Linked DNA regions of Homo sapiens. The protein of the gene in region 2 purifies or fractionates together with the protein of the main gene of each other region. This does not show direct contact. Each region holds a gene or a part of one and is shown on either strand. Other genes may lie near its edges. The genes, in order: PUS7 and REG3A.

The links.
Region 1: the proteins of REG3A (region 2) and PUS7 purify together in Homo sapiens (affinity purification with mass spectrometry; one large-scale study listed by BioGRID and IntAct). This does not show direct contact.

What each region holds. Positions count from the first base shown.
Region 1 is NC_000007.14:105,505,168-105,508,981, forward strand, and holds part of PUS7 (pseudouridylate synthase 7 homolog), read right to left. Parts: intron 3,378-3,814; 5' UTR 3,346-3,377; coding exon 2,948-3,345; intron 1,107-2,947; coding exon 1,022-1,106; intron 890-1,021; coding exon 788-889; intron 1-787. UniProt on the Homo sapiens protein: Pseudouridylate synthase that catalyzes pseudouridylation of RNAs.
Region 2 is NC_000002.12:79,156,954-79,161,456, forward strand, and holds REG3A (regenerating islet-derived protein 3-alpha precursor), read right to left. Parts: upstream 2,801-4,503; 5' UTR 2,775-2,800; exon of another isoform or gene 2,487-2,774; 5' UTR 2,453-2,486; coding exon 2,377-2,452; intron 1,817-2,376; coding exon 1,698-1,816; intron 1,511-1,697; coding exon 1,373-1,510; intron 746-1,372; coding exon 619-745; intron 341-618; coding exon 273-340; 3' UTR 53-272; downstream 1-52. UniProt on the Homo sapiens protein: Acts as a hormone in response to different stimuli like anti-inflammatory signals, such as IL17A, or gut microbiome. Secreted by different cell types to activate its receptor EXTL3 and induce cell specific signaling pathways.

The DNA.
Region 1 (3,814 bases), on a different chromosome or scaffold from region 2:
TTTTTTTGTATTTTTAGTAGAGACGGGATTTCGCCATGTTGGCCAGGCTGGTCTTGAACTCCTGACCTCAAGTGATCCGCCCACCTTGGCCTCCCAAAGTGCTGGGATTACAGGTGTGAGCCACCGTGCCCGGCGAACAAAAGCTTTAACAACAAAATTTACTATTCTACTTAGTAGCTGAGCTCTCCTTTTCTTCAATAGCAGAATTGACCCACGATGAGCAAATAAATGCTCCCCTACTTCCTTTCCCCATTTCCTCCCCTTCCCAGAGTCCCAACTGAGGCCAAGAAGCTGCTGAAGCCAGAATCTGACCTGGGTCACATACCTGACAGACAGCAAATGGTGGTCCTGTTACAACGGACATTGTGGTATAATTGGTACTCTGGGATTCTAAACAACATATGTCGCTGTTCATTTGTGGTCCCTAAATTTTTTTTTCAGAGATGATGTCTCACTATGTTGTCCAGGCTAGTCTCCAATTCCTGGGCTCAAGTAAACCTCTGGCTTCAGCCTTCGGAGTAGCTAGGACTTTGGAATAGCATGTAACACTGTACCCAAATAAAAATGTTTTTAAACAAAAATGTAACTTTGGGGGGGGCTATAGTTTATCTGGGATACTAGTTATCTGCCCCAGTAAAAAAATTTTTTAGTGTAATATCCTTTAGATCCAATAGAGCAAAAAGTCACCCTTTGTTAACCATTGTAATTTTTTCCATAAACACTTAACATCCACCCAAAAAGCAACTAAAACCCTAAATAATTTTTCATATATTTTTGCATTAGTTACCTCAATGGCAACACTGGTTTCCTTATTTTTGAACAGCTGGAGCTCTTCCAATCGCTGCTTTTCTTCAGCTGTCAAAACTGTAAATATGTCTTCTGAAGGGTCCTTTAAAATAACCATGAGAACTCACAATGAATCATACATAGAATTCAAGTTTAATAAAGCTCTATATTTCTAAATCTCTAGGAAATGCTATTTTTATACAGAAGGTGACATTTGCTAAAGAGCTACTTCTACCTCCTCATCCACTGGAATGGACAAGTCATTCAAATGGCTGATCCGTCCATCTTTTCCTATTTCATGAACAACGAAGTCGGAGTATCTGATGAAAGAAAACATGAACTTTCAGATAATTAACATCCTGTTTTCTATTAATTTTAAGATAAAGTTGATCAACAGCAAGCCTTACTATTATGCAAAACAAGGAATTTTAAAAAATCTTCAGTGCAAAATCACATGGAGTTAATTTTTTTTTTCTTTTTTTTTTTTGAGATGGAGCCTTGCTCTGTTGCCTAGGCTGGAGTGCAGTGGCTCGATCTCCACTCACTGCAACCTCCGCCTCCTGGGTCCAAGTGATTCTCCCGCCTCAGCCTCCCGAGTAGCTGGGATTACAGGCACGTGCCACCACGCCCAGCTAATTTTTGTATTTTTAGTAGAGACGGGGTTGCACCATTTTGGCCAGGCTGATCTTGAACTCCTGACCTCAAGTGATCTGCCCATCTTGGCCTCCCAAAGTGCTGGGATTACAGGCGTGAATCACCACATCCGGTCTTTTCTGGTTTCTTAATGAATGCTGAGCCATACCTTGGCTCAAGTTTTATATGAGAACTTAAAGAAAAGACCCTCTTAGCTTCTAGAATATTCTTCCAGAGAAATGCAAAAACAAAAGCTTATTAACATTACCCTATGACGATTCAGGCAGCCCACACTAAATTAAATCACAAAATATGCTATATGGTTAATTGAATCAGAACCCAGTAAGTCTACCATGAACTAGCCTGAAGCTTACCTTTATGTTAAATATTTTACATGCATTATTCAAAATCCTCAACAACCCCAATGTGGTAATATGATCCATTTAAAAATTTTATTTTATTACTATTATTTTTTTTGAGACAGAGTCTTGCTCTGTTGCCCAGGCTGGAGTGCAGTGGCTTGATCTTGGCTCACTGCAACCTCCGCCTCCTGGGTTCAAGTGATTCTCCTGCCTCAGCCTACCGAGTAGCTGGGATTACAGGCGCGTGCCACTACGCCAGGCTAATTTTTGTATTATTAGTAGAGACAGGGTTTCGCCATGTTGCCCAGGCTGGTCTCAAACTCCTGACCTCAAGTGATCTGCCCGCCTTGGCCTCCCAAAGTGCTGGGATCACAGGCGTTAGCCACCGTGTCTGGCCTGATCCATTTTTTAAATAAGGATGCTGAGGTTCAGAGAGGCTAAGTAACTACTAAGTAGCGAACTTCACACTGGGATCCACCTGGCTCCAAAGACTACCTTCTTCTAACATAGTTGTGGCACATTCAAATGAAAAAAGAGTTTAAGATTATAAAACAAACTCAGGAGAAAATCTGAAACCATTTAAATGAATTTATTCATTTACTTATTTTTTTGAGACAGAGTCTTGCTCTGTCACCCAGGCTGGAATGCAGTGGTGCAATCTCGGCTCACTGCAACCTCCACCTCCCAGGTTCAAGCTATTCTCCTGCCTCAGCCTCCCGAGTAGCTGGGATTACAGGTGCCCATCACCACGCCCAGCTAATTTTTGTATTTTTAGTATAGATGTGCTTTCACCATGTTGGCCAGGCTGGTCTCAAACTCCTGACCTCAAGTGATCCGCCAGCCTCGGCCTCCCAAAGTGCTGGGATAACAGGCGTAAGCCACTGTGCCTGGTGAATGAATTTATTTGAGGCATGATCATGCCACTGCATGCCAGCCTGGGTGACAGAGTGAGACCCTCTCTCAAAAAAAGGGAAAAAATTAATTAATTAAAATTTAAAAATCCAAGGCTATTTATTCAGGCAGGTTTCCTTCATCCTATTCCTTTTGATCAGTAGTATAAACAAGCCTTGGAGATGGAAAGCTAAGTGGAAGAATATAAAGCTAATTTCTTTCTAAAGAAGAAACCTAATACAATCAAAATAACTTTATTCATAAACTAAATGTACCTTTCTTTTAAGATTCCCGAGAACCCTTGATGAGAACTCACAAACTTGGTGATGCCTACGTCAGCCTCAGTGAGTCCATGCTTCATCATGTCTGCAAAACTCTCTGATTCCTCCTCCTCGCACTCCTCTGAAAGTCCATCTTCCTCCTCTTCTTCCTCATCTTCCAACTGAGCCTCAGAATTCTTTCCACCTTTCCCAGTACTGACAGTGTCAGGAGGCCGAGGCACGTCTTCACTGATGGACAGAAAGTCATTCTGTAGCCCATCTTGACCTTTGGTTAGACTGCATTCCGACAGCTTCTGTTTTTTTGTCTCTTCAACTGGGACTCCACTGTCATTATCTTCGACAACCAGTGCCCCACGTTTCAGCGACACACCAGTCATTTCTGTCATCTCCATCTTTAAGGCTCCAAGAAAACATTTAAGAAAACCTGTTAGGAAAGAGTAGAAAGTAACAATCACCTATATAAAAGCTGGTTTCAGGCCGGGCGCGGTGGCTCACACCTGTAATCCCAGCGTTTTGAGGGAGGTTAAGGCAGGCAGATCACTTGAGGTCAGGAGTTCAAGACCAGCCTGGCCAACATGGTGAAACCTCATCTCTACTAAATATTAGTTAGGCGTGGGTGGCAGGCGCCTATAGTCCCAGCTCTTGGGAGGCTGAGGCAGGGGCATTGCTTGAACCCGGGAGGCAGAGGTTGCAGTGAGTTAAGATAGTGCCACTGCACTCCAGCCTGGGCGACAGAGTGAGACATTGTCTTAAAAAAAAAAAAAAAAAAAAAAAAAAAGGTCAGGCACGGTGGCTCACACCTGTAATCCCAGCACTTTGGGAGGCCGAGGTGGGCGGATCACAAGGTCAGGGGTTCGAGAT
Region 2 (4,503 bases):
TTTGTCCTTCTCAGAGTATGGCTATGACACTGGCATATACAAGACAAACAAGTGCAGACTAAAAATTTTATTGCTCTTTAAAGCCTTAGGCCGTATGACAAAATGAAGAGACTGAAATGACAGCGGGGAGGAAGAAACAGAAGAAAGATAAGAATGAGGTGGTCAGGTTGGGGGAATTAAGCGAATATTCTCTTCCAGGGTGAGTCCTCACACTGGTCTCATGCCCATGATGAGTTGCACACCAAACACAGGCTGCTGACTTCCCTCCTGCACTAGTCAGTGAACTTGCAGACATAGGGTAACCTCACATTACAGTTATAATCTTTCCACCTCAGAAATGCTGGAGAGACAGAAGACATAAATGGAATGGGGCTGAGGAAGCTTGTGAATCCAATGAAGGGGCATCCCAGGTTTTAGCCTAGAAGTTAAAGCCTCTCCCTCACCTTCACCAGTGTCCCAATCCAGGAGAGAGATTCAAAGAAAGTGGAGAAGAGAGGAGATAAGAGAAGACACACTAACATTGTATTTTCTAGCTCAGGAAGATTTCCTGAAGGTCAGACCCAGGAATGGGGGATGAGATGGAAAACACTGGGAAGAGGCAGCTCCTCTGTTTCTTACCTGTGCTTCTCGACAGGCTCGCACAGTGGCCGGGGCTTGAGATGGTGGAGGGATTTCTCTCCCATGCAAAGTAATTCATCACATCACTGCTACTCCACTCCCAACCTTCTCCATTGGGCTCGGTGCCCTGTAGAGTAGAGGAGGTAGCCAGGTGAAGGGAATGGCCATTGCAGCTCTTCTTGCATGGCCCCTTAGCTGCAACACCTGATTTGCTCCCCAGCATGAGGAAAGTTGGTCTGCTATTCCAGATGCTGCCGGTGAGTAGGAAACTCTTCCTTGACTCCTCATTGCTATTGGAAAATTCCAGCCAATAAACATAAGACCTTTGGAACAACTCAAGGTAATATATTATTTGCAGAACAATAATTGATGTAGCATTTGTGATTAGCTTGTGAACCTCAAAAGTAATGTCAGTTCTGTATGGGGACAAAAATTGATCCTATCTTCATTAAGAGTTCCTTCAGAATAGTAGGCAAAGACTCCATGAAGCTCAGAGAATTGTTAACCCAGCCTCATATGAGAATTATGTAATACGCCTGAGGAAGGCAGATTGATTTTATCTGAAAGATAGAGACCTCCACAGAACTCAGATCTTCAGATGCTTCATGGCCTTCCCTTTCCCCCCAAATATTCCCCAGAATCTGAGCTCCAGTGCTCCCTGAAGTACTTCCTGGGCAGGCACAGGGGACAGGGAGTGGGCCTGGGCAACAATAGCACCTTGAGAGGTAACAGAGAGGGGAGGATATACTGGCACCTGTGTGGGGTCATGGAGCCCAATCCAGACGTATGAGTAGCTGTTACCAATGCTCTTCACCAGGGAGGACACGAAGGATCCCTCAGCCCCACTGAGCACAGACACCAGGTTTCCAGAGGGCCGCTTCTGGCAGGCCAGCTTTGAGGGCAACAAAGAGAATGAGAGGGAGCCTGAGACCTGCTGAGGGAGGGCAGGGCAAAGGTAGGTGGGAGGAGGACTGTGTGAAAGATAAACGTGTTCATCCTCATTCCCAAGGAACTCTCCTGAATGGAGACCCTCCTCCCCCTGAGACCGGTCACCTCCAACACCACATCTAACCACTCACATCTGCATCTGTCCAGGATTTTGGTGACAAAAACAAGGCATAGCAGTGGGAGCCATAGGCCTTGGAGCCTTTGGGACAGCGGATCCGTGCAGAGGGCAGTTCCCTCTGGGGTTCTTCACCTGAGGTGGAAGAAGAGGGGGGAGGGTAAAATGAAGAGTGGGGCTTGGGGTGGGAGATGACCTTGGGGAATACCTAGGAATGTCCTTGGGGAGGAAGACCACATTCCTGACACCCCTTCATCTTCCCTTATGTTTTCAGAAATTCTTTATCTCAAAATAGCCGTAGTAAATGGAGCACCATCCAGTCTCTTATTACCCTTTCCCCTTATTCAACCATTCAATACTCTCCTCACTCTGGGCTGTCTCTACATTGGGTCCTCCAATCATTGTCCCTCCCCACATCTCATTACTGACCCTCCAGTGTATATTAGAGTCCACTTTCCCACCAGTGTATATTAGAGTCCACTGACTAAATGGAAGCCATCTCATTCCACTGTTAGTGGACCACCATGGAGCCTCCCACTGCAAGTTAACCTGAAGGAAGGAGAGATGATGCAAGAACTGCAGGCAGGTTCATTAGACACCACGTCATTACCTCACATGACACACAGGAGCCTTCCTCCTCTTGTTAGCTCTGAGGATTCATAGGGAACCCAGTGCTAGAGGCAAAGCAATCTCACCTTGAACCTGAGACAGCAGCATGAGGCAGGAAAGCAGCATCCAAGATACACTGGGCAGGGCCATGGGAGGCAGCATAGTGTCTGCGACTTGAGGAGGCAATCAGGAGTCACTAAAGAAAGCGTGGTCAGTGGGAGAACACACAGATACCCCACTGCCTCATGTCATTTTCCTTCTCTAGTCCCCTAGGACTAAAGTGATCTTGGTCACATCCATCATCTTCTACAGTTCTGAATGAGTTGTGAATCTGTGTACTCTCCCATCCCCGAGCCCTCCCAGGACACCCTTGCTGAGTCTCAGAGTTCCTGTGCTCCCTGAGGAAGGGACCCTCCCATGTATTCTCCTGTGTCATGTGCAGTAGCTCCTCCCTGGGTCTCATCTTCTCTCAGCTCCCACTTACCTCTCTGGTGGGATATGGTATGGTTTGTCTGGTCAGGAAAGAGTGGGATTTTATAAGAGGATCTGGGGGAGGGACATTGGAGTGAAGAGTGACAATGAGTAGGCAGGACAGGGGTCATGGGGTGGGGTTGGCATGGACTCTTCCTGGCAAAGACTGGGGATTTTCCCAGATGTTGCCTCTTTCCTGTTGGCAGGCCAACACTTTCCCTAGGAAGAGGTGAAGTTTGCTTTTTCCTCTGCATCCTCCTTGTCAAAGGCCTGTGGCACCAAATGTGATATGAAATCTTCTAATGTGGACATCTGAAAGAGGAGTTCCTCTGGTGGGTTTCTTAAGAACCCACTTCTGGAGGCAAACCTATGTATTTCTTATTACCTTGCCTAGTAAGATTAAATAAATGTTAGGTGTTAAGTGAAGATTTACGGGAATTATAAGTATCATGGACAGTTGAGGACATAGATGGTACTGAAGCTAAGAGTAGGAGTGAGGGTTCAGGGCCATTATGCAAGCATGATAGCTAATTTTGATGAAACTTCAGAATTGTCTGACAAGTCAATACATGAGCCACAATCTTACAGAAAATCAGGTGAATGGACTTGTCTTTCCAGTCTTCAGCAAGAAAGAGCTTCCCCAGTGGAGAATGACAATGGCAATGTGATAGAATAAGAGGTAATGAAGGAAAACAAGACATAAGAAGGACTACAGTCAAATAATGAGGATCAAAGAAGAATGAATAATAGTTAAAGAAGGGAAGAGCAGCCATTGTGTAAAATCATAGGTCAGTTGGCCAGGTGCTGTGGCTCAGGTCTATAATCCCAGCACTTTGAGAGGCTGAGGTGGGAGGATCACCTGAAGCAAGGAGTTCAAGAGCAGCCTGGGCAACACATTAAGACCCTATCTCTACAATTTATATTTTAATTTAAGCCAGTTGCGGTGGTGTGTGCTTGTGGTCCTAGCTACTCAGCAGGCTGAGGTAGGAGGACCTTCAGTTGAACCCAGGAGTTCAAGGCTGCAGTAAGTTATGATCATCCCACTGCACTCCAGCTTAGGCAACAGAGTGAGAGCCTATCTCTAAATTTTTGTTTTGTGATGTTGTAAACATAATTCTGAATTGCATGTAAGTCTCTATTACATCAAAATGCTCACTACTTGTAGGTTGCTCATGAGCTTCCTTGCTGGACTGCCATTTGGCTGTACATTAAAAGCCCTTTTCATTGCATTCTTACTGGGCAAATGGTCAGCTTCATATGGGTATACTGGGAGAAGTTCTTTTAGTCATGTTTATTTTTGAGTTAGCAGTTTGGTGCCTCTGACAAGCATACTACATTGCCCATACACTGGTTCAGGTTCAGTTTGGCCAGTCCAGGAAAAAGTTAGGCTGGGAATTTCTACAGACCCTGACTCTCATGCTATTGTTGTAATATGCCAACTTGTATGCAGATGTTTATAGTAGGGGTCTGTGACGAGGTCATGAGATGTAGCTCATCCTTAATTCACGTCCTCAAAATTCAGTACCCAAAATTCAATGCAATTCCTCAAATAATATGAGAAGAAATATAGCCAGCAGATTATTTTGTTAAAAAGGATTTTTTTCCACAAAATTTATACAACAATATGTAAACACATGGAGGTACGGGGTAGAAGGTAACCAGAGGGTAGAATAGTTACCAGAGGCTGAGACGGGTGAGGGGAGATGAAAAGAGTTTAGTTCATCGTACAAACATACAGCTAG